3 linked regions of the Homo sapiens genome follow. The protein of the gene in region 1 interacts with the protein of each later gene in a biochemical or structural test. Each region holds a gene or a part of one and is shown on either strand. Other genes may lie near its edges.

Region 1 (8,182 bases):
TGAGAGCAGTTCATGTTTCCCCCCGACTAATTCTCCCTGTGGACTCAATCCACTATGAAGTTTTTATTGCTGGTTTTATTAAGGCAATTGGAAATAATTAGACATTGTCTAGCTGGGTGGGGTCCATTAGACACTGATAAAGAAAAGGATTAATTCATTGTCATGGTCCTAGGAGTATTTCCAGACAAAGGAAACACTATTATGAGGAAGACACAGCTCTGCCCTCCCCCACATCCTCCAACTCTGCAGCCAGAGTCACTAGTTCAGGCCATAGGATTAGCTCCCCTTGCAATCTGCTGCTGTGTAACAATAAATACTAGGGAGCCCCAGGTACAGGTGAAGTATTCCAAACACTATCATCGATCCTGCATATTAATCCCATCTCTACCAGAGCCAACACACAGTTTCTTCTAAGAAAATCCCTTCAACATGAAGGGACCTCATGTTCAGTAAGCCTCTTTATTTAGATAGCAATGACACTAGCAGGGATTTCAAGGGGCTTCTCTAGTTTAATGCTGAAGGACCAATGTGATGTGACGAGATGTTGTGGCAAGCAGCCTTCTTGGCTTAGGAGGAAAAGAACAGAATCTTCCAACTTCATGCCTGAATAGGAAAAACAATCCTTAGGTGATATTGACTCTGCCCTGGCTGTTCTAAAAGGCTAAAGAGAACAGTGTAATCTTTTCACGCACCTTGCTCCCATCCACACGTTAATACCTGTTTCTGCAGCTTGCAGACTTACTTTTTGCAAAGAGCTGCGAGATGGTTTTTCTGGTGTCCTCTGACCCCTCATATTCCTTCTCTGCAAGCTGCTTGTTGGCAGTCTCTAGACGCTCTGTGAAATTTGGAGACAATCAACAGGGTCTCAAATGTAAACTTTCATGCACATACTATTGGCCCTCTAAATACTGACCTTTGGTAAAACAAGCCTGTTTCTTCTTGTTAAACAGGAATGGGTGACTAACATGAGTTTGCAAATGTGAATCCCAAAATAATACTAGACCATGGCCGGGGAGGAGGAGGTAAGTATTTAATGCTTTCACTCCTCACTGCCAAAACCTAAGTTAAGTGCAGAATTCTAAATTTCAATGAAATTATCCATCCCCAAATATATAAAGATATCTTTCATTAACCAGAAAAAAAAGAGTATCACAGTTATTATAAAGTATTTAAACTCATGTAATGTCAAAGTTGAAAGGGACAACTAGCAGCATGTATTTGGGCCCCCTGACTTTAAAGATAAAATAACCAAAATTCAAAGATAGTAACATCCCTGGCCGGGCACAGTGACTCATGCCTGTAATCCCAGCACTTTGGGAGGCCACGGTGGGTGGATCACCTGAGGTCAGGAGTTTAAGACCAGCATGGCCAACGTGGCAAAACCCCATCTCTACAAATACAAAAATTAGCCAGGCATGGTGGCGCACGCTGGTAATCCCAGCCAGCTACTCAGGAGGCTGAGGCAGGAGAATCACTTGAACCTGGGAGGTGGAGGTTGCAGTGAGCCGAGATTATGCCAGTGCTCTCCAGCCTGGGCGACAGTGCAAGACTCCAACTCAAAGAAAAAAAAAAGAAAAGAAAAAGGAAAAAAAAAAGAAAGTACCATCCCCAAGGTTAGCAGTTTTGAAGGTGCTGAAGGCACTTTAAAGTAGAAATATTTCCCAAAGTCTTCAATATTATCAGGTGAAAGTCAAAAATAAAAGGAGTCAGTCAGTCCTGGAAATAAGAGAGGACATTATACTTCAAGCTTGCAGTCAAAGGGCACGCCTCTGTAAAACCTGTTAAAAAGAAGAGGCAGCACCTATTGTGGGGGTGGGCCAGGTGGGTCCAGGAGTCCCAGCAGGGATCCTGCCTGATTAACACATCAGCTCATTGCTCAGAAGACCAGTGAGGTACATCCACACTTTGATCAATCAAGCTTGGGACTGAGGACTATTGCAGTCACAAAAAATTAGCCTGGCACATGCCCAGCCATTTACTGCCCATACCGGTGGGTTGGACAACCCCAAAGAGCCTAGTTGGATCCTGCTCAGCCCTTCCCTTCACCACCCTGCAGCTGCTTCAGAAGTACAAAGACAAGTCTGTTGGTTCCCTCACCTCTCAGATCCCTGTTGAAATCATGCATCCTCCGAATCTCGCCCTCTAGCTTGTTTCTCATGGCTTTCTCTAGGGCCTCTCTTTTGGAGGATGACTTCACGAGGTTCTCATATGCCTCCGAGACGCGCTGGATTTCTGTCTCCACCTTAACAACAAAAAAAGACAATGGTGGTGATGGTAGGAGGGTGATGGGGAAAATGGTCTGAAAACAAACAGGCAAATCCTCGCTGACAGCTTCTCCCAGGGCTCACAGATGGCCAGGAGGCAAGCATAACACAGTCAGATGACACAAGTTTCAAGAAAGGATCTCCACCTTCAACCATAAGCTTAGTAATTAACTCATGGTGTCATGGTCTTTCCTCGGGTTAAAAAAATAGACAATTTCTGCCTTCAGAGGAGATGGTAAGATAGAATAAATTTTATAAATAGTTATAAAGGATTTTAATTTCTGAAGAAAACTCTTAATTTTGAAAATATTAGTAATAATATATATAGTATGTAGATATTCCAAAGCATTCAAAGGGCTTTCACATGTTGGTTCCAGTCTGCACTGATTATCTGCCTAGACAGGATACCTCTTCTCATTTTAGTAGAGAGAAAAGTCAAATTGCCTCTGAAGATCAACTGTCAGCAGCAGAGACCAACCCTAAAAACCCCAAGCTTCATGAAGTAGTTCAGTTCAATTTAACAAACATTTACCAAGGGCCAAATATTTACACGAACTCTTTAAAGTACTATTGGGGGTGTGTAAATATGAATGAGAACATTCTCACTGCCCTCAGGGAGGTTTCAATCCAATCGAATGAAAGACTATAGGGCAAGATACATCTTTAAGAAAAGTAGAAGTAGTGCCATAAAGTACAGACAAGGAAGAAGTTATTCCTGGTTGGGGAAGTGGGGAGGAGAACAATTTCTGAGAAGAGGTGGCATTTACAGTCAGATCCTGAAAGCTGGGTCAGATTTCAATGAGCAGAGGTGAGGGGAAGGGTATTCTATTCTGAGTAAGCAAATGCATTCCCAGAATGACCAGTCGTTTAATTTGGCTGGACACTGTGGGGTACGCAGAGGGAACCTGGCGAGATATGGCTGCTAAGATAGATTGGAGTCAGATCATAAAATGCTTTTAATGCCAGGCATTTGGACTTTATCCCATAGTCAATGGGAAACCAGTATAGGTTTTTGAACACAAAATCATAATCAGAGTTGTGTTTTATGACACCCCTGCAAATCTCATAAAATGGGGAAAATAAACTCAGAGAGAAAGGGTCTTCCCCTGAATCAGCCACAATCAGGCCGAAAATGAGAAATTAGACTCCAGAGTTTTTCTGTAACTAGTATAGCTCCATTGCACATATAATAGCCACACAGATATTTGCATATAATTTGTATAAGACAAATAAACCCACGGTCTATTAAGCAATTTTCAGATTAAATTGGACTCTGCAACCATTCTGCATTGCTTCTGTGTTTTCCACTATCCTGTTTAACAAAGCTCAGGGTACTTTCAGGGAAGAAATATCAGGCCCCTAATGGGACACTAGGGGAAAGGTAAGGTTGCCAAACCAGTCAGATTCAACCCGCCTCCATCTCCAAAATTCTGCCAGAGACAGGACTGCCTGCAAACAAATAAGGCTTATGCCACAGAAAAGAGCAGACTCAAAAGTGTTTTTCTCTTCACAGATGGCACCAAGATAGCAGCACAGAAGGTGAAAACTGGTGAATGGCATTTAGAGACAAGATCTGCAAGGCCTGCGCCTGATGAAGCTTTTGCATGAAACTCAAGCGCTGGGGAGAGAAAATAAACATTTCCATCTGAAAGAGCAGGCTTGGTGTTGGTCTGCTCTGGGCAGCATTTATAGTTCAAGGCTGTCCGGTTGTGCACAGAATGCAACACCTAGAAGGTAGTCCCTTTCCTCAAGGTGTGCAGACTGCTATTTCAAGATCTTGTACTAATCCTTCCCCTACCCCCTGTGTAGATACTCCATCCTTCAAAAGGGCAAGTCCCACAGCTCTCAATAGGGCCTTCCAGGAAAAGCCATCACAGAAGGATATATCCACTGGTTTGGGCTGGGTGATGGTGGGGGCAGAGAGGAGGGTGGCAGTGGGTTTTCCAGACTTACTCTGTCTACTTATTCCCCTCATGAGCCTCAGGCCTTTTCATTTCCTCCAGCACTACCTGGGATCTACCTTAATTTTCCCCACTTTCCTTTTCCTCTCCTGGTCCACCTTCCCCTCTACTCTACCTCGACACTGGGTCAGCCTCTACTTTCCCAACATTCAAGCTGTTCCAGTTACACTTATTTGAGGCATCTTTTCCCATCTTGGGGAACAAACAACAGCAATCCTATTCTCTGTCCCTCTTCCCTGTCACTGGCTGAACCCACTCCCACACACACAAAAAATCACCATGGATCCTCTGGCAAAAAGGGCCCGTATTAGAGCTGGGTTCATCCTTCAGTGATTGTATCAAAGATGGGCTGGGATCACCATGAAGAGAGAGTTTGGAGAGGGGGTGTCAACTGTTAGCCTAATCAGCCAGACTGGGTTTCTAGTGTATGGATATAATTAATTTATTTCACCAAAGCGATGGGGATAGGGATATAGTTAAAATTTGCGGGTGAAAATACAAAATCAGGGAAAAGCCGGGAAGAAACAATTCTCAGAGCACTCCAACAACCCTCATCCAGATTTAGGAAAACTAAGGGACAGGGAAGCCATTTTCCTATATAAAAATCCTCTGTTTGCCAGGCGCAGTGGCTCACGCCTATAATCCCAGCACTTTGGGAGACCAAGGCGGGCGGATCACCTGAGGTCGGGAGTTCGAGACCAGCCTGGCCAACATGGAGAAACCCCGTCTCTACTAAAAATACAAAATTAGCCAGGCGTGGTGACACATGCCTGTAATCCCAGCTACTCAGGAGGCTGAGGCAGGAGAACTGCTTGAACCCAGGAGGCGGAAGTTGCAGTGAGTGGAGATCGTGCCATTGCACTGCAGGCTAGGTAACAAGAGCGAGACTCCGTCTCAAAAAAAAAAAAAAAGAAAGAAAGAAAAAAAATCATCTGCTGATAATAAGCCCCTGTCTCCTTGAGGCCCCCAGATTTGGTGTCTGTTTACAAATACTCAGCTTCATTCAGGCCTCTGAAATTTTCACTCCTGGTGTTTCCTAAGGACAGAGTTGCTGGACAATACAAGGCATCCTCCTGTCCCTCCCCCACCTTCACCCTCACCTCTCTGAACAGTTCACATTGTAGGGAGACCAAACCACAATAGCTCCACAATGACAAAAGCTGCAAAGAAGCGGCCAAAGGCATAACCCTATTCACCAGCAGCCCCTGGAAGCCAAGAGCTAAGGTTCCTCGCTTGGGGTACTCCAGAGGTAAAGTCCCAATGGGGGTGGGCAGAGAAGAATGTGAACTGGAGATACACTCCTTTTTCTATTTCCTCAGCCTAGGGCTGTCACCTGTCACCCAGCTGTGGTGTTAAGCCCCTCCTGCCCCCCACATACAACAGAGAAAGAGAGCAGATGTTGAATTTGAGCTGCAGGGAGGGACCAAATCAAAGGGTGGGGTGGAGGGATTGTTGAAAGAGAGTTACTATGAGAACTCCCACTAGGAAAAAGTATTCTGAGCCTTTTCCAGAACAAGGCAGGACTGCTCAAACTTTAGCTGGTGAGATTTTTCTAGGAACTACATTTATTTTTATATTTAAGATTCAAATTCATATTTGGGAAAATGTGACCAAGACAATGAGCCTTAAGGTGCCGTCAGATCCTTTACCTATAAAGGCATCACCAGTATTCTTATCAAGAAGTATCACTGCCTTTTGGAATTCTAAAAGAATTAATCACGTTTTCTTTAGGGCTATAGCGTCTGGAAAAACTGCATAAATTTTTTTCTCCTTGTGTAAATGTAAGACGTTACTTCTCCTAGGTAGACAGGTAGAAGGCTTTTTCCAAAGTTTGACTCATATCTAACCTTCAGATATAAAAATCCTGAAGACCTGCCACAAGTAATGCTGGGATTCACAACTGGAGACTTTAATGTGGATATTAAACAAGTCTCACAAATAAAGACTTAGAGACCCTAATATCCCAAAACGGAAGCCTCACCTTCTGCAGTCTTGCCACCTTCTCATAGCATCCTTCCAACTCTTGCCTCAAGTTCCGGTTCTCGTCTGAGAGGATCTCAACCATCTGCTGGGCTCTGGAAACAATGGCAAAAGGGTCTGCTGGCACTGGCTGATAAGAAGCAGAGGATGGCTGAGCCCGAGGCATAGCTGAATAGGCTTCTCCTGGCTGCTGCTGTGGCTGCTGCTGCTGCTGTTGTTGGTGGTGATGGTGATGATGGTGCTGCTGCTGCTGTTGCTGCTGCTGCTGACTCAGGCCAGGTTGGGAGAGACGGTAATGATCCCCCTGGTGAGCCTGATTAGGAAGGAAATGCTGCTGCGGCCTAGGCAGGTGAGCTGAATGGTCTCCCTGGTTTGGGACCAAGGGGTGTCGGGCAGGAGACAATCTAGTGGATGGTGGAGATTGTAGCAAGGGCAAGGACCCCCCAGAGGTCAGAGAAGAAGTAGGGCTGTGAGGCTGCGAGTTCCTGGCTGACAATGGCAATGAGATGTCCTGCGCTGGCCTGTAAAACATGAAGGGCAGGTGCGGGTTAATTTCTCTCCTAAGGCACTGGGGGAGAAGGGCACACAAAAGTGAGATGAGGAGGCTTCTGATGCCCCCAGGACACCTGCAAAATGAAGAGCAGGCAGGGTCTGACTATGGGGAAGTCTAACCCTGCCTGCTCTATCTCTGCAAAGACCACAGCCCTTTTCCAGCCTGACCTTCTGTGCCTCTGCCTGACAAACAGAGGTGTGATCCCATGAGGGTCAGAACCAGACAACTTCCATGGTCACTTTGTGAAAATCGTAGTGATACACACCTGTACACCCGTTTGCTCAAGTCTAAACATTTCAAACGATTCTTCTACAAGGTAATTTTCATCTCATTATTTTAAATTAAACCTTTTCTGACATTATACACGTGGTCCAGCACACATAAAGATCCTAGTTTAGAAACTATGTTCCATTTGCCAGGATGGAAACAACAAACAGCCATAAAAACCACCCCCATCTTGCTATCTGCAACTCCCTTTAGTAATTCATACATTCACAAAAAAAAAGAAAAAAAACTATTCAAGGATTGGTAGATACTTATATTAGAGACACTAAATGATTATTGTTGCTTCCAGTTGTTAACGATTTAATGATTCCCATTAGCAGTAACCATAAAAAGACTTGAAGAGGGTTACAAGCAATGCTAACATACTATTTTTGATGTAATGAATCGCAAAATGTAAGAACTGGAAAGGCCTTAAAAGAAAATTATTTAGTTCAACTCTATCACTGGACAGATGGGGAATGAGGTCCAGAAAGGGGAAGTCATCTGCCAAATATTAGAGTGGTGGTGCCAAGATAGAATCCTTCTTTCCCAATTCCCATTTTCTGGCTTTTTCTACTGCCATAATGCATTGATTTCTGTGCACTGATACTTAGATTTCCAACCTATTGCTCATAGAAAGTTCCAGAAAGAGACCTTTGGTACATTGTTTAATGTGGCTCTCCCATTTTTGTACCTAATTACCAGGTACAAAATGCTAACACCTAAGTATAAATAATTCATACCTAATGACTATTAGCCATTAAGGGAAACAATTAGTATGTGGATGGATCACTTCCACCATCACCACTACCAGGAATAGTATCTGTCAGTGTGCACTGAAGACAAAAAGCTTGTTCATGCCCTAGCTCATGCCCAATTAACCTCATATGCTCCCATGTCCTGTGGACACTTGTTCTACAGTTGATATTTCTCAATCCAGGGAAGACAGATGGCTAAGTGCATGGGATCTGGATCCCAACAGAGGGAGTCTGGAGACCTCTTCTACTGCTCACGAGCTGTGTAACTTGGTGCAAGTTACTTAATCTGCATGAGCCCATTTTATTCTTGAGGTCACAAATAAATTGCAAAAATACTGGGGTCTTCTCATTTTTGGCGGAATAGGAATTACAGTCACTTCTCTACCTCCCAGTGAGATAAGC
Region 2 (7,591 bases), on another chromosome or scaffold:
CCCGAAGATACTAGCTATTTAAAAACCGGTCTATGCTATGAATTCTCCTAACTCAAGAAATTCCAGGTTACCAGAGTTATCTTTGTATTACAGAATTAACCTGTACTATCTTAAAATCCCCTGGCCTCCCACTGAAAGTACACAGAAGGCCAACATTTAGAATTTTTTAATCTGCTAGTATTGATCATACTGCTATTAACCATTCTTGGATGTAGCCATTGGGTTTTTCAAGGAGGAAAAAATATATAACTTCCTTGGACAGGATGGTCCTTTATTATGACATAATGTTTTCACTTAGAAAACTTTAGATGGACAAATTCCTGAAAACAGGTTATTCCTTTAGAATTGGATTAAGTTAGAGTTTTAAAGAGTTGGGTTAAGGCTAATGGGATTAAGATAAACTCTTGGGGGGAGATTATTGCTGCCAAGCAGGTTTGGCAGCCAACTTCTCACAGCTCAGCACCAGCACTGGAGGATGCCGGCATTCTGGCATCATTTTGAGTCTCCTGTTAATTGTGACTCTAGAGAGCAGTAAGAGTTTTAATTCCCATGTAAAAGAGTTTACATCTTGCTATTTTTGAAGTAATAGATTTTAGCAAAGAGTATTCTAATTTAAACATTTTATTAAATAATTTAGATGTATGACCTGCCATATTCAGTAAGAACTGAGATTGGAATATTTAATGGTAAGGAAAAGGCACCTGATTGGCCAATGCATTTTTGCTACTTGATGATCATATTTGTGCACTCATGCCTGTTACTAACTGGCCACCCTAACCCTGCCTGCTTGCATCCCTACTAATAGTGCATGCACTGAAGGAGGACTGGCTTTGTTGATGCTTGCTGCAATGATTCGGAATACTAAGTGTGTACCCAGATGTGGAACAGGTGGTCACAGGGCTGTCCTTGTTACTTCTTTAATTTCCATTCTTTTCCATATCAGGCAAGCTTGAGGTATAGTAGGAAGAACACACATTATGGAGTCAGACCTGACTGAGTTAGAATTTCAGCTCTTGGTATAACATAGGCTAGGCACAACCTGGCTGATCTGTAAAGTGGTGACATCTGTCTAAATTGTTGAAGATGAAATAAGAGAAAGTCCAAGATTATTCTGTTAGCCAGTTACAGTTCTTAATATACGCGCAATCTCGGCTCACTGCAAGCTCCGCCTCCCAGGTTCAAGCAATTCTCCTGCCTCAGCCTCCTGAGTACCTGGGATTATAGGCGCCTGCCACCACATCTGGCTATTTTTTTTATTTTTAGTAGAGACGGGGCTTCACCATGTTGGCCAGGCTGGTCTCGAACTCCTGACCTTAGGTGATCCGGCCTCCTCAGCCTCCCAAAGTGCTGGGATTATAGGTGTGAGCCATTGTGCCTGGCCTGCTATTTATCATTTTTATCTAGAAGAAAATAGTTTTAATCAGATTTCTATGTTAGATTCACATATCAGGGTTTTAAAAACTCATACGCCCGGACCCGGCCTTCTAGGACCCAAACACAGGAGACTGGGGGTGGAACCCAGGTATCCATATTTTGATTCTGATGCACCACTTGGTTTTTTGAATCTCACTTCTTTCATGGGTTAAAAAGACAATGCTCTGCAGAAGGAGATAACATATACATTCATATAATTTAGTGAGCCTGAGACTGTCTGTGAGGCGTTAGTCCACTGTACCACAGATAGACCAAATCACTCACAAAGTAGCCATAAGCCTGGACACTTTGCTGGCTAATTTCATAGTGTTTGCTTTTTAAACTCTCACCCTTCTTATGTCATGTAAGTAATGCCTTTTTAAAAATAAGCATGAGCTGGGGCACGGTGGCTCACGCCTGTAATCCCAGCACTTTGGGAGGCTGAGGCGGGTGGATCACTTGAGGTCAGGAGTTCAAGACCAGCCTGGCCAACATGGGGAAACCCCATCTCTACTGAAAATACAAAAAGTTAGCTGGGTGTCGTGGTGGGTGCCTGTAATCCCAGCTACTTGGGAGGCCAAGGCAGGAGAACTGCTTGAACCCAGGAGGTGGAGGTCGCAGTGAGCTGAGATCGTGCCACTACACTCCAGCCTGGGTGACAGAGTGAGACTCTGTCTCAAATAAATAAAAATAAGCATGGATATTAAAACTCTTGAGAAATGGAAATAATAAGAAATCAACTGTAGCTATACAATTGAAAAAGTCTGCCATTTATATTCTACTTTTTTTCTTTTCTCCTCTTCTCTTCTCTTCTCTTCTCTTTTCTTTTCTTTTCTTTTTTTTTTTTCAGACGGAGTCTCACTCTGTTCCCCAGGCTGGAGTGCAGTGGCACGATCTTGGCTCACTGCAAGCTCCGCCTCCTGGGTTCACACCATTCTTCTGCCTCAGCCTCCCGAGTAGCTGGGACTACAGGCGCCCACCACCACGCCCAGCTAATTTTTTGTATTTTTAGTAGAGACAGGGTTTCACCATGTTAGCCAAGATGGTCTCGATCTGCTGACCTTGTGATCTGCCCGTCTCGGCCTCCCAAAGTGCTGGGATTACAGGCGTGAGCCACCACACCCGCCCCTTTTTTTCTTTTAGTTTTTCTAGAAGGCAAGGAGGTACATGAGCATAATTATTTGACATAGACAGATTTGGATCCTTTTATTTCACTTTACATCATATGCTCGTTCTCATGTGATAATGTAATTTTTAGAACCATGTTTTTCAGTGACTACATAATGTTTCATCAACCAGATGTATTATTACTCCTAGTTGGATATTTAAGTGGCTTCTGTTTCTACTTGCAGTTTATTTTTAATAAGTAGATAATCAGAATTGTGTCAAGATAACATCCAGTGAGACTTGAACAGAATCACTCCTGAATAGTTGACTCAGAGTCTCTAATAGCCCTAGAAAACTGACGAGAAATCATCAGTTCCTGATAAAATTACACAATTCTACTTCAACCAAAGAGGATCAAAGCCAGATTGGTTGGACTGTCATTCTTCTGTTTATTTATTTTGTGTATTTTTTGAGACAGAGTCTTGCTCTGTCACCCAGGCTGGAGTGCAGTGGTGCAATCTTGGCACACGGCAACCCCTGCCTTCCTGGTTTAAGCAGTTCTCTTGCCTCAGCCTCCCAAGTAGCTGGGATTATAGGCAGGTGTGGCAACACCTGGCTGATTTTTGTATTTTTAGTAGAGACAGGGTTTTGCCATATTGGCCAGGCTGGTCTCCAACTCATGACTTCAAGTGATCCACTCACTTCTGCCTCCCAAAGTGCTAGGATTACAGGCATGAGCCACCGCACCTGGCCCCATCATTCTTAATCACCCTAACATTTTCCCTCTTTCCCAAAAGAGTTGTGTATATCCTTGGGTGAGGATCCTGAAAGTGAAGACATTATCTGAGGAAATAATGGTTTGGGTCTTAAACACTCTGGTTAGAGCTAAGTTTATATGACAGGTATTACATTGTAAAAAGGAGAAAAAGGTTATTTTAGAAAGACACCTGTTAGAACCTGCTTTTTTTTTTATTTTTTTTTATTTTTGAGACTGAGTCTTACCCCGTTGCTCAGAATGGAATGCAGTGGTGCGATCTCAGCTCACTGTGACCTCCACCTCCCAGGTTCAAGCGATTCTCCTGCCTCAGCCTCCTGAGTAGCTGGGATTACAGGCACTCACTACCGTGCTCGGCTAATTTTTGTATTTTTAGTATAGACGGGGTTTCACCATGTTGGCCAGGCTGGTCTTGAACTCCTGACCTCAGGTGATCTGCCTGCCTCGGCCTCCCAAAGTGCTGGGATTACAGGCATGAGCTACCACACCCAGCCAGAACCTGCTTTCTAAAAGCACCCTAAACCTCTTTGGTTGTGAATTTATATATTCTCTGCCTTCCAAGGGCTGGTCTTTGAGGATATTGCTTGGAACTAAGTTCATACAGTAGATATTTTATTTAAAAAAAAAAAAAACAGAAAAGAGACCTCCAATAAAAGGTTTCTTTTTTGTCTGATTTTTTGCTTTTTTTTAATTTTGAAATATAATACTTGTCATATAAACTTAGCTCCAAGCAGTATGCTCAAAGACCAGCCCTTCTTGGAATGCAAATAATATATAAATTCATAGCCAGAGACGTTTAGAGGTGTTTAAAGAAAACCAGGTTCTTACAAGTGTCTTTCTAAAATAACCTTTATCTCTTTTTTACAACAATCAACCAGAGTGTTTAAGACTCAAACCGTTCACTGGTGAAGGAAGGCATTCCCTGAGACTCTAGGTCTGAGAAGAGGGATGGGTGGTGGAGAGGGGGAGGGAGTTTATTCGCCCTGCAGTTGTGCCTGCACCACTTACTTTCAAGGGCATATTTGGATCTGTTACTTGTCAAAGTGGCTATCAGAATCACCTTGGACTTCTTGAAGGGTGAGTTCACAACCGAGAAAGCACATATTCAAAATTGTTGAAGTAATAAGTAAATCTTCTAGAACCTTACCCTCAGTGATAACATTCCACTTCTAGCTCTTAAATACCCACTTCTGTTTCCTGGATGAGATACTCAGTGCAGGAAGGAACCTGGGTTACATTTGTCAGAGCCCCAAATCTGAGATGAACTGTATCAAGTTCTGCCTTTGGGCTGAGGCTGGTTACTGGAGGTCATCCTCTGTTTCTCTCTTTTTTTTTTTTTTTTTTTTTAAAAAAAAGAGAGACAGGGTCTTGCTCTGTTGCCCAGGCTAGAGTGCAGCGGTGTGATTCCAGTCCACTGCAGCCTTGACCTCCTGGGCTCAAGCGAATCTCCCAAGTAGCTGGAAGGTGGAACTAGAGGCATGCACCACCACACCCGGCTAATTTTTGTGTTTTTCTTATAGAGACGGAGTCTCATGTTGCCTGGGCTGGTCTCGAACTTCTGGGCTCACACCATCATCCCACCACGCCCAGCCTATTTTGTTTTTTTAAATACAATATCTTTTGTATGAACTTAGCTCCAAGCATATGCTCAGAAACCAGCCCTTCTTGGAGTGCAGTTAATATACGAGTTCATAGCCAGAAAGATTTAGAGGTGTTTCAGACAAACCAGGTTCTTACAGGTGTCTTTCTGAAATAACCATTTTCTCCTTTTTACAACAAACCAGAGTGTTTGTAAGACTGAAACAATGATCTTGGATAATGTCTTTGAAGGCCCTCACCCAGGGATTTACAGACTCCTCTGGGGAGGAGGGAAAATGTAATGCGAAGAGCCAGAGTGCAACCAATCTGGCTTTGATCCTCTTTGGTCCACACTGGCTGTGTCACCTTGGGCAAGGAATAGAGCCTCTGAGTCTCCCTTTCTTATTTCTGCTGCCTTAGGATTAGTTAGTGGGGGTTCAGTGAGACGATGTAATAAAGTGTGGGTGTATAGTACAGTCTCTGGTGTAAGTAAGTGCTCTATAGTAATGTCAGCTACTGAGGCTGGGTGTGGTGGCTCATGCTGGTAATCCCAGCACTTTGGGGAGCCGAGGTGGGAGGATTGCTTGAGGCCAGGAGTTCAAGACCAGCCCAGTCAACATGGTGAAACCTTGTCTCTACCAAAAATAAAAAAAATTAGCCAGGCATGGTGGCGTATGCTTGTAGTCCTAGCTACTCGGGAGGCTGAGGTGGGAGGATCAGTTGAGCCCAGGAGGTGGAGGCTGCAGTGAGCTGAGATTGCACGACTGCACTCCAGCCTGGGCAAAAGAGCAAGACCCCATCTCAAAAAAAAAATTTTTTTTTTTAATGTTAGCTACTGTGATGAAGTCTCTTTCTGAAAACTGGTTCTGTACAGGTTGCCGTAATTCTTTCTACTTTTTGTGTGTAAACAAAGTCATTGTTTCTTTCAGGGACTGATTCATGTAGGAATAGAGAGGGGCTGGGGAAACCAGATGGGGCAGGTGGGCGGCAGAGTAAGGGATTTCCTTTATGCCCCAAAACACATTTTTTCCCCTTGAATTAATAATGTGTGTGGATCATAAATAGAAAAATTCAGAGAGGCACAAATCTAAAAATTATGTATATGTGATGTATAAGAAAAAGAGAGCAGCTGTGGAGGGGCTTGGTGGCTGATAGGCGTTAGCTTGCATGTGAATACAGATATTAACAAGTAGAAATCTCATCCGTATACACAGTGCCTTTGCATCATGCATTCCCCGCCAAGTCATGTCGGTTCCATAGTTTCTGGTAAACTCTGGGCTGAGAAGAGACACGGGCTGGTAGCCCCTTCTGTTTTTGGGGGCCAAGATAATGGGGAAAGGATTGCATTTGCAGTGATTTTCTTATACGTCGTCTTCAAGTCACAGCTACTTCTTTGCCTGAGGATGTAAGAATGGAGGATTGGAAAGATGGTTGCTCTAGATGACTCTTCATGCATCCATCCAACCATCCAAGTGTGCAGCTACAAAATTTCTTGAACATCTGCTATTTGCCGGTCACTGTTTTAGGTACTGAGGATACACTGTGAACAAGACAGACACAGTCCCTGCCTTCGTTGACTTCTGTTCTGCTTAGGACAAATCCAAGACAGCCCCTATTCTGTGCATACAGACCACCTTTGGCTGCACCATAGGCTGGTGCAGTTCTGCACAGTGTCATTGGTTTTATAGTTATCACAAGACCTGAATTGTCTGAAATGACATTCAGCACCTGAACTCTTTGACACTTTGGCACCTCCATAAATCTAGAAATTTCTCTGAGTTGTGGTGCATAGGAAACCTTGAGGGACAACCCAGGAGTAACTGTGAGAAAAAGGGTGTCCCAGGGAGTAAATAGATCTCACAGCTCAGAACTGTAGGGACAGGAAGGTGGAAGGGGTAGGAGCTGGAACAAGTCTCCAAGCAGTGAGCTTCCCCAAAGTGCACCAGCGTTTTCAAGCTGTGCCTGCGTAGACGGGAGCAGGTCGAACAGAAATATAGTCAAAACTAGCTCCCGTCAAGGACAGACAGGATGTCATTTTGCACCACAGCAAGTAGGGGAAAGCAGCTCTCAAGCCTAACTGTGAAACGCCCCCACAAACCACCTCCTCCTCCCACTCCCTCACTGCTGCCTGCCATGGCTACCTCTAACGCAGCAAAGCAAAACTACAAAACATCTCTCTTCTCTCTTACACCAGCCCTAAAATACCTAATGAGGCTCTCATAATTTGCCAGAACCCACATCTACGAGAGAAGCCAGCCCTTTTGTCTTAATTAGGATCCCCTTGGTCTGCCCACTTGACCGTGGGCTTCATTGAGGCTGTGCCTGTCTTGTTCAGTGCTGCGTCCTCAGCAGGTAGAATGGTGCCTGGCACCTGGGAGGTGCTCAGTAAATATTTGTTCATGCATAAATGAATCTGAGACCCACTGGCCTCTGGGAAGAGCATAGGAGAGGGGGACAACAGCATGAGGACCATATGTTTGCCATCTTGCTGAAGGAATTTCAGCCAACATAATAAGACATGAAAATGGCATTCGAGGTGTATTAGACAGACAAGGGGATGTTAGTGTTTGCAGGAGACTTGGTCTGCCTCAGTGATGTCAGTCAGCAGTGATTGTGATTCCCCAGGGGACACTCGGCAGCATCTGGAGACATTTTAGTTTAAACTTCCCCAGTGATCTGTGATGTACAGGAGACACTTTCGGTTGTCACACTGGGGGA
Region 3 (7,591 bases), on another chromosome or scaffold:
TGATTTCTTTCAGTAGCAATTTGCATACAAATCTTGCTCATGTTCTAGATTTATAACAAAGTATTTTATGTCAGAGGAGCTATTGTGAATGGTATTGCTTTTAAATTTTAGTTTCCAGTTTTCATTGCTTAAATATAGAAATAGATGGATTTTGGCCGGGCGCAGTGGCTCACGCCTGTAATCCCAGCACTTTGGGAGGCCGAGGTGGGTGGACCACCTGAGGTCAGGAGTTCAAGACCAGCCTGACCAACATGGTAAAACCCAGTCTTTACTAAAAATACAAAATTAACTGGGATGGTGGCGCATGCCTGTAGTCTCAGCTACTCAGGAGACTGAGGCAGGAGGCTCACTTGAACCCAGGAGGCAGAGGTTGCAGTGAGCCAAGATAGCACCATTGCACTCCAGTCTGGGCAACAAGAGTGAAACTCTGTTTCAAAAAAAACAACAACGAAGAAATGGATAGATTTTATGTGTTATTCTTGTACTTTACACCTATAGATTCCCTGGGATTTTCTATATAGAAAATTATATCATTTTTGAATAGGGGAAGTTTTTATTTTTTACTTCTTCCTTTTCTTTTCTTTTCTTTTTTTTTTTTTTTTTTGAGATAGGATCTTACTCTATTACCCAGGCTGGAGTGCAGTGGTATAATCATGGCTCACTGCAGCCTTGACCTCCCCAGGCTCAGGTGATCCTCCCACCTCAGCCTCGTGAGTAGCTGGGACTACAGGTGCACACTGCCATGCTCGGCTAATTTTTCTATTTTTTTTGTAGAGACACGGTTGCGCCATGTTGCCCAGGCTGGTCTCCAATTCTTGGCTCAAGCAATCCACCCGCCTTGGCTTACCAAAGTGCTAGGATTACAGGCATGAGCTACCGCGCCCAGCCCTTTTATTTCTTTTCATTGCTGTATTATGCTGGCTAAGATTCCAGAACATAGAATTGATGAGAATGGACATTCCTGCCTTGTTCTCAACCTTAGGGAGAAAGCATACAATTTTTTTTCTCTCTCTCATACACCTACACACAAATATATTCAAATGAAGACAAAATAAAGATAATTTCAGACATACCTGAGACAAACCTGAGAGAATGCCTTATCAGCAGACCTATACTATAAAAAATCCTAAAAGAAGTTTTAAAATGTAAAACCATTTCTTTTTTTTCCTTTTTTTTTTTTTGAGATAGAGTCTCACTCTGTCGCCCAGGCTGGAGTGCAATGGCGCGATCTCGGCTCACTGCAACCTCTGCCTCCCAGGTTCAAGGAGTTCTCCTGCCTCAGGGCCTCCATATAGCTGGGACTACAGGTACCAGCCACCATGCACGGCTAATTTTTGTATTTTTAGTAGAGACGGGGTTTCACCATGTTGGTCAGGCTGGTCTCGAACTCCCGACTTCAGGTGATCCACCCGCCTCAGCCTCCCAAAGTGCTGGGATTACAGGCATGAGCCACCACACCCGGCTAATGTAAAACCATTTCTATATTAAATGCAATGACTGAAGAAGTTATAGCTTAAGAAAGGTGGAAATCAAAGAAACGATGGAATCTCAGGAAACTCTCAAAGAATAATTTGTTTTTTTTAGACAGAGTTTTGCTCTTATTGCCCAGGCTGGAGTGCAATGGTGTGATCTCAGCTCACTGCAACCTCTGCCTCCTGGGTTCAAGCAATCCCCGTGCCTCAGCCTCCCAAGTAGCTGGGATTACAGGGGCGCGCCACCACACCCAGCTAATATTTGTATTGTTAGTAGAGACAGGGTTTCACCATGTTGGCCAGGCTGGTCTCAAACTCCTGACCTCAGGTGATCCACCTGCCTTGGCCTCCCAAAGTGCTGGGATTATAATAGGTGTGAGCCACCACACCCAGCCAAATTTTTTATTTTTTGAGATGGGATCTCACTCTGTCACCTAGGCTGGAGTGCAGTGGCACAAATATGGCTCACTGCAACGTCTCCTAGGCTCCAGTGACCCTCCAACCTTAGCCTCCCAGGTAGCTAGGACCACAAATATGCATTACCATGCCTGGCTAAGTTTTTTGTATTTTTTGTACAGAGGGGGTTTCACCATGTTGCCCAGGCTGGTCTCAAACTCCTGGGCTCAAGTGATCTGTCTGCCACGACCTTGCAAAGTGTTGGGATTACAGGTGTGAACCACTGCACCCATCCCAGCACTTTGGGAGGCTGAGGTGGGTGGATCACTTGAGCCCAGGAGTTTGAGACCAGCCTGGGCAACATGGCAAAACCCTGTATCTACAAAAAATACAAAAAAAAATGCACCTGCGGTCCCATCTACCCAGGAGGCTGAGATAGGTCATTTGAGCCAGGAGACAGAGGTTGCATGAGAGGAGATCACGCCACTGCATTACACCCTAGGTGAAATGTTTTGACCTTATCTCAAAATAAATAAAGTGCTGGGATTACAGACATGAGCCATCATGTCTGGCCCTCAAAGAATAATTAAGAATGATCAGGAGGCCGAGGCGGGCAGATCACAAGTTCAGGAGATTGAGACCATCCTGGCCAACACGGTGAAACCTCGTCTCTACTAAAAATACAAAAACTAGCTGGGTATGATGGCGCATGCCTGTAATCCCAGCTACTCGGGAGGCTGAGGCACGAGAATTGCTTGAACCCAGGAGGCAGAAGTTGTAGTGAACTGAGATCACGCCACTGCACTCTAGCCTGATGACAGAGCAAGACTCTGTATCAAAAAAAAAAAAAAAAAGAGAGAATGACCAAGAGTTAATTAGACTTCAGAAAGGAGGAAGGGTTATAGAAGAGAGAGATGGAAGTAGGACATTCCAGACAGAGGGAACGGTATGAACAGAGGGCAAATTTCAACTTTAACCCACGGACAATCACTAAAGAGTATTAAATCAGACAGTGTATGGTCAAAATTGTGGGTAACTTCTCATTTAAGTGCCAGAGGTATTTTCAAGTGGGGATATAAACATTTGTTTGTAGTTTGCATAGAAGGAGACAAGGCCAGGAGGCAGTAGGTGACAAAGAGTAAACTGGACTAAATCTTCAAAATGGACTAAAGACCTTTTTGTTTTGTTTTGTTTTGTTTGAGGAGTTTCGCCCTTTCACCCAGGGTGGAGTGCGATGGCAAGATCTTGGCTCACTGCAACCTCCGCCTTCTGAGTTCAAGGGATTTTCCCGCCTCAGCTTCCCAAGTAGCTGGGATTACAGGCGCCTGCCACCACACCCCGCTAATTTTTGTATTTTCAGTAGAGACGGGGTTTCGCCATGTTGGCCAGGCTGATCTCAAACTCCTGACCTCAGGTGATCCACCCGCCTACACCTCCCAAAGTGGTAGGATTACAGGCATGAGCCACCGTGCCTGGCCTAAAGACCTTTTTGAGAATGATATATGATATATGAGTATGCTGTATGAGTGAGGGGGGATACAAGATTATGGGGATATGGCATCATGGAGACTGGAGTTCACGCATGCAATTCTGGTGAGTTCCTATACCCTTACAAGTTCATTCTTTTCCTTTTTTAAATTAAAAAATATTTGTTTGTAGAGATGTGGTCTCACATTGTTGCCAGGCTGATCTTGAACTCCTAGGCTCAAGCAATCCTCCTGCCTCAGCCTCCCAAAGAACTGGCATTATGGGTGTGAGCCACTGCACCCGGCCCAAGTTCATTCTTTAACTCCAGACTAAAATGCTCTACGTACTAATAAATAAAAGTCAATGATGTAGCAACTTTGTGAGAATTCTTTTGATATAGATGCCATACCTTACCTTCATTTGTGTTTCTAATGGTGTTTGTGCCAAGAAAGGAGGTTGTCCCACCAACATTTCAAAAAGAATAACACCAACACTCCACCAATCACACAACTGTGTGTATCCTAAAATAACAAAGTTATTTATAAGCACTTTAAAAATGCTCAGAATACAATAAAAATTAACATTAAATCACCAATTTATACTTTAAAATTAATACTTTTATTATAAGCCTGAAAAATAAGGCATATTCTAGTGTCGTTTTGGCTGGTCTAAAGGTCTACTGAGAATATATATGAAAGAAGTGCTTTACCTGTTCGTAGCAACACTTCAGGTGCAATATAATTGGGAGTCCCAACCAAAGAATGTGCTAGACATCGCTGGTGCTGGCGTGCAGCTCTCCGCTCTAATGGCTTCAGTCTGTCTCCACATCGACAGCTTGAGGGATCCCCCCATTCATTACTGAAATCCATGCTATCTTGCCGTGGATGGTCACCTGCACAACAAAAGAATAAGTAAATAAAGTCAACAATGACAACAGTAAACCTGAAGTCTATTTAATCTTCTGACATCGTGGTTTAGGGTTAACAACATTCTCCCTTGTGACAAACTAAGACACAATGTATGCCAAATCACTGATGGTGTTTATTACCAATTAGAGCCTATTTTCTGAGATGTCAATAGGAAGGATTTTACACTTAAAAAAAATTAGCCTAAGATTTAGTAATTTATGCAATGTTAAATAACAACAATATGAGTCATGGGGAGATTAAGAGTTTGTTATTTAGCCCACTCCCTGTTACTACTCTGGACAAACTTTCAAACAAATTAGATCCATCTTTCATTCAATAAATGACAGTGATAATAAGACAAAGCTCTGGTTACATTCTAGTAGGAAAAGAAACAAAACAATTACACATATAAGGAACAGTGACATACCCTACACAGAGAATCAACACAGGGTGATGTAACAAATGTGACTGGATAGCTACATAAGACTGAATGGCTAGGGAAGACCAGTTAAGAAGGTGACTTCAGCTAAACCGTAAAAAAACAAGAAGGACTCAACCATTTATAAATCAGGATTAGGTATTCCACACAGAAATAACAGCAACAGAGAGAAGACCAGCACAGCTGATAAAGGGGAGAACTGTAGGAAATGGGGCAAGAACTGTAAGAAATGCGGCAGGAATACATGTGGGTTTTGCAAGCAATAGAAATGGTCTGCCTTTTACCTCAAGTAAAGTGAGAAGATATTGCAGAGTTCGAAGCAAGAAGATAACAGTATCTGATTTATGCTTAAAAAAAAAAGTTCTTTATGGGTCATGTGAAGTTTGAAAGGCCTATTTGAAATCCATGTGAAGATAGCCAGGAAGCAGCTGGATAGAGAAATTACGAATTTCAGAGAAAGGCCATTTCTGGAGAGAGAGATTTGGAATTCATTGACATATAGATGGCATGAAGTCACCTAGAATATAAGAAATTAACCTAACTGTAATATTTATCTGGGATGTTTGATTAAAATATGATTTCCCTTTGGGAGGCCAGGGAGGGTGGATCATGAGGTCAAGAGATTGAGACCATCCTGGCCAACATGGTGAAACCCCATCTCTACTAAAAATACAAAAATTAGCTGGGTGTGGTGGAGCACACTTGTAATTCCAGCTACTTGGGAGGCTGAAGCAGGAGAATCGCTTGAGCCCAGGAGATGGAGGTTGCAGTGGGCCGAGATCGCGCCACTGCACTCCAGCCTGGCAACAGACCAAAACTCCGTCTCAAAAAAAAAAAAACAAACAGGCTGGGCGTGGTCGCTCACGCCTGTAATCCCAGCCACTTTGGGAGGCAGAGGCAGGCAAATCATGAGGTCAGAAGATTGAGACCGTCCTGGCTAACACGGTGAAACCTGGTCTCTACTAAAAATCCAAAAAAAAAAAAAAAAAAAAAAAAAAAAAAATAGCCGGGCGTGGTTGCCGGCGGCTGTAGTCCCAACTACTCGGGAAGCTGAGGCAAGAGAATGGCGTGAACCTGGGAGGCAGAGCTAGCAGTGAGCCGAGATTGCGCCACTGCACTCCAGCCTGGGCAACAGAGCGAGACTCCGTCTCAAAAACAAACAAACAAACAAACAAAAAACAACAAAAAGATTTCTATGCCCCAGTGAAGATTTTTGATCAAAAGATGGGAATAGAGCCTAGGAATCATATTTTTAAGAAGCTTTCCAGGTAATAATTCAGTCGAATCTGGGAAGACACTAAATTCCACTATGTCGAACATTAAAGTAGGTTCAATTGTCTCAGTTCTACCCATTTTAATGTCAATCTACTTGTGTTCACAGAAGCACAGGAGGCTAATAATACTTACCTCAGAGAATTGTTGCGAGCATATTAGAATATATGGTTAAGCACCTAGTACATAGTATTTAACAAATGTTAGATTGACTTACACTTCCATTAGCGCTTGGAGGGATCTTGGTGAGGCAGTGTGGTGTAGTAGAAATAACATGGGCCCTGAAATCAGACAAACCTGGGTTCAAAGCCTAGCCCTTACACTTGATTTCTGTCTGACCTTGGGCAAGTTACTTCATCTAACTAGGTCTCAGTTTCTTCATCCTGCCTCACAGTGACATTGTGAGGATAAAATAGGATCAAGGATCATAAAGTGTTTAGGGTTATATAAGTTGTGTAACAGTCATGTAATGAAATCCTAAATAGTAGTGAAAATAAATGTTACAAGCAATAACATGGAGGAACCTCAAACAAGTCAACACAAAGAATATATATAGATTATATTTAAATAAAGGTTAAAGAGTAGGCAAAATGAAATAATATATTATTTAAAGATATACACATTTGTGATAAAAGGATCGATAAAAGTAAAGAACCGATTATAAAGTTCTGAAATAATAATTATCTTTGTGGAGGAGAAAAGGGGAAGTGATTGTTTAAGGGCTTCTAAAGTACTGATAATCTAGTTCTTTAACTGAATGTTGGATATGAGGATTCATTAAAAAATTATTTTAAAAATGTTTTTGGCCAGGCGCAGGGGGCTCACACCTATAATCTCAGCACTTTGGGTGGCTGAGACAGGTGGATCACCTGAGGTCAGGAGTTCGAGATCAGCCTGGCCAACATGGTGAAACCCCATCTCTATTAAAAATACAAAAATTAGCCGGGCGTACTGGCAGGTGCTTATAATCCCAGCTACTCGGGAGGCTGAGGCAGGAGAATCACTTGAACCCAGGAGGGGGATATTGCAGTGAGCCAAGATGGTGCCACTGCACTCCAGCCTGGGCGACAGAGCGAGACTCCATCAAAAAAAAAAAAAAAAAAAAATTGTTTGTCTGGCATATTTTCAAATAAAATGTAAAAGGTGTGACTCAAAAATGTTAATAATATTTAGAAACAATCAAGTCTAGCACATTCTTTCATTTCATAAGTCTAAACAATCAAGTCTAGCACATTCTTTCATTTCATAAGTCTAAGTGCCTAATGGAGTCACCCAAGTTTATCCAACAGAATCAAGACCTGACCCACATCTTCTGGCTCTCATCCAGTGATGATACCATCTTATATTTTACTACATCAATAAATTACATTATTATGAACAAACTAAAATAAATTTTATGAGTTTACTTACCACTCTGATAGTACTTAGAATCGTGTGTCCATCTGAAGCCAGTGCAGAGGCCAAAGTCAGTCAATTTAATATGACCATCACGATCAATCAAAATATTATCAGGTTTAATATCTCTATGAATAAAACCCATTTTATGAACACTTTCAACTGCACAGGTAAGTTCTGCTATGTAGAATCGTGCCAGACTTTCTGGAAAGATGCCCATTCTAATTAATAGGCTCATCATA

Evidence for each region. The genes of interacting proteins can lie anywhere in the genome.
Region 2: the proteins of AMOT (region 1) and ARHGAP17 form a complex in vitro, tested with the Homo sapiens proteins (one study listed by IntAct).
Region 3: of the proteins of AMOT (region 1) and LATS1, one has a biochemical effect on the other in vitro, tested with the Homo sapiens proteins (one study listed by BioGRID).

The regions. Positions count from the first base shown.
Region 1 is NC_000023.11:112,809,152-112,817,333, forward strand, and holds part of AMOT (angiomotin), read right to left. Parts: intron 6,727-8,182; coding exon 6,207-6,726; intron 2,243-6,206; coding exon 2,098-2,242; intron 836-2,097; coding exon 743-835; intron 1-742.
Region 2 is NC_000016.10:24,920,779-24,928,369, reverse strand, and holds part of ARHGAP17 (rho GTPase-activating protein 17), read left to right. Parts: intron 1-637; coding exon of another isoform or gene 638-645; exon of another isoform or gene 646-686; intron 687-7,591. UniProt on the Homo sapiens protein: Rho GTPase-activating protein involved in the maintenance of tight junction by regulating the activity of CDC42, thereby playing a central role in apical polarity of epithelial cells.
Region 3 is NC_000006.12:149,672,511-149,680,101, forward strand, and holds part of LATS1 (serine/threonine-protein kinase LATS1), read right to left. Parts: coding exon 7,365-7,591; coding exon of another isoform or gene 7,357-7,364; intron 6,236-7,356; coding exon of another isoform or gene 6,172-6,235; intron 4,228-6,171; coding exon 4,045-4,227; intron 3,857-4,044; coding exon 3,750-3,856; intron 1-3,749. UniProt on the Homo sapiens protein: Negative regulator of YAP1 in the Hippo signaling pathway that plays a pivotal role in organ size control and tumor suppression by restricting proliferation and promoting apoptosis.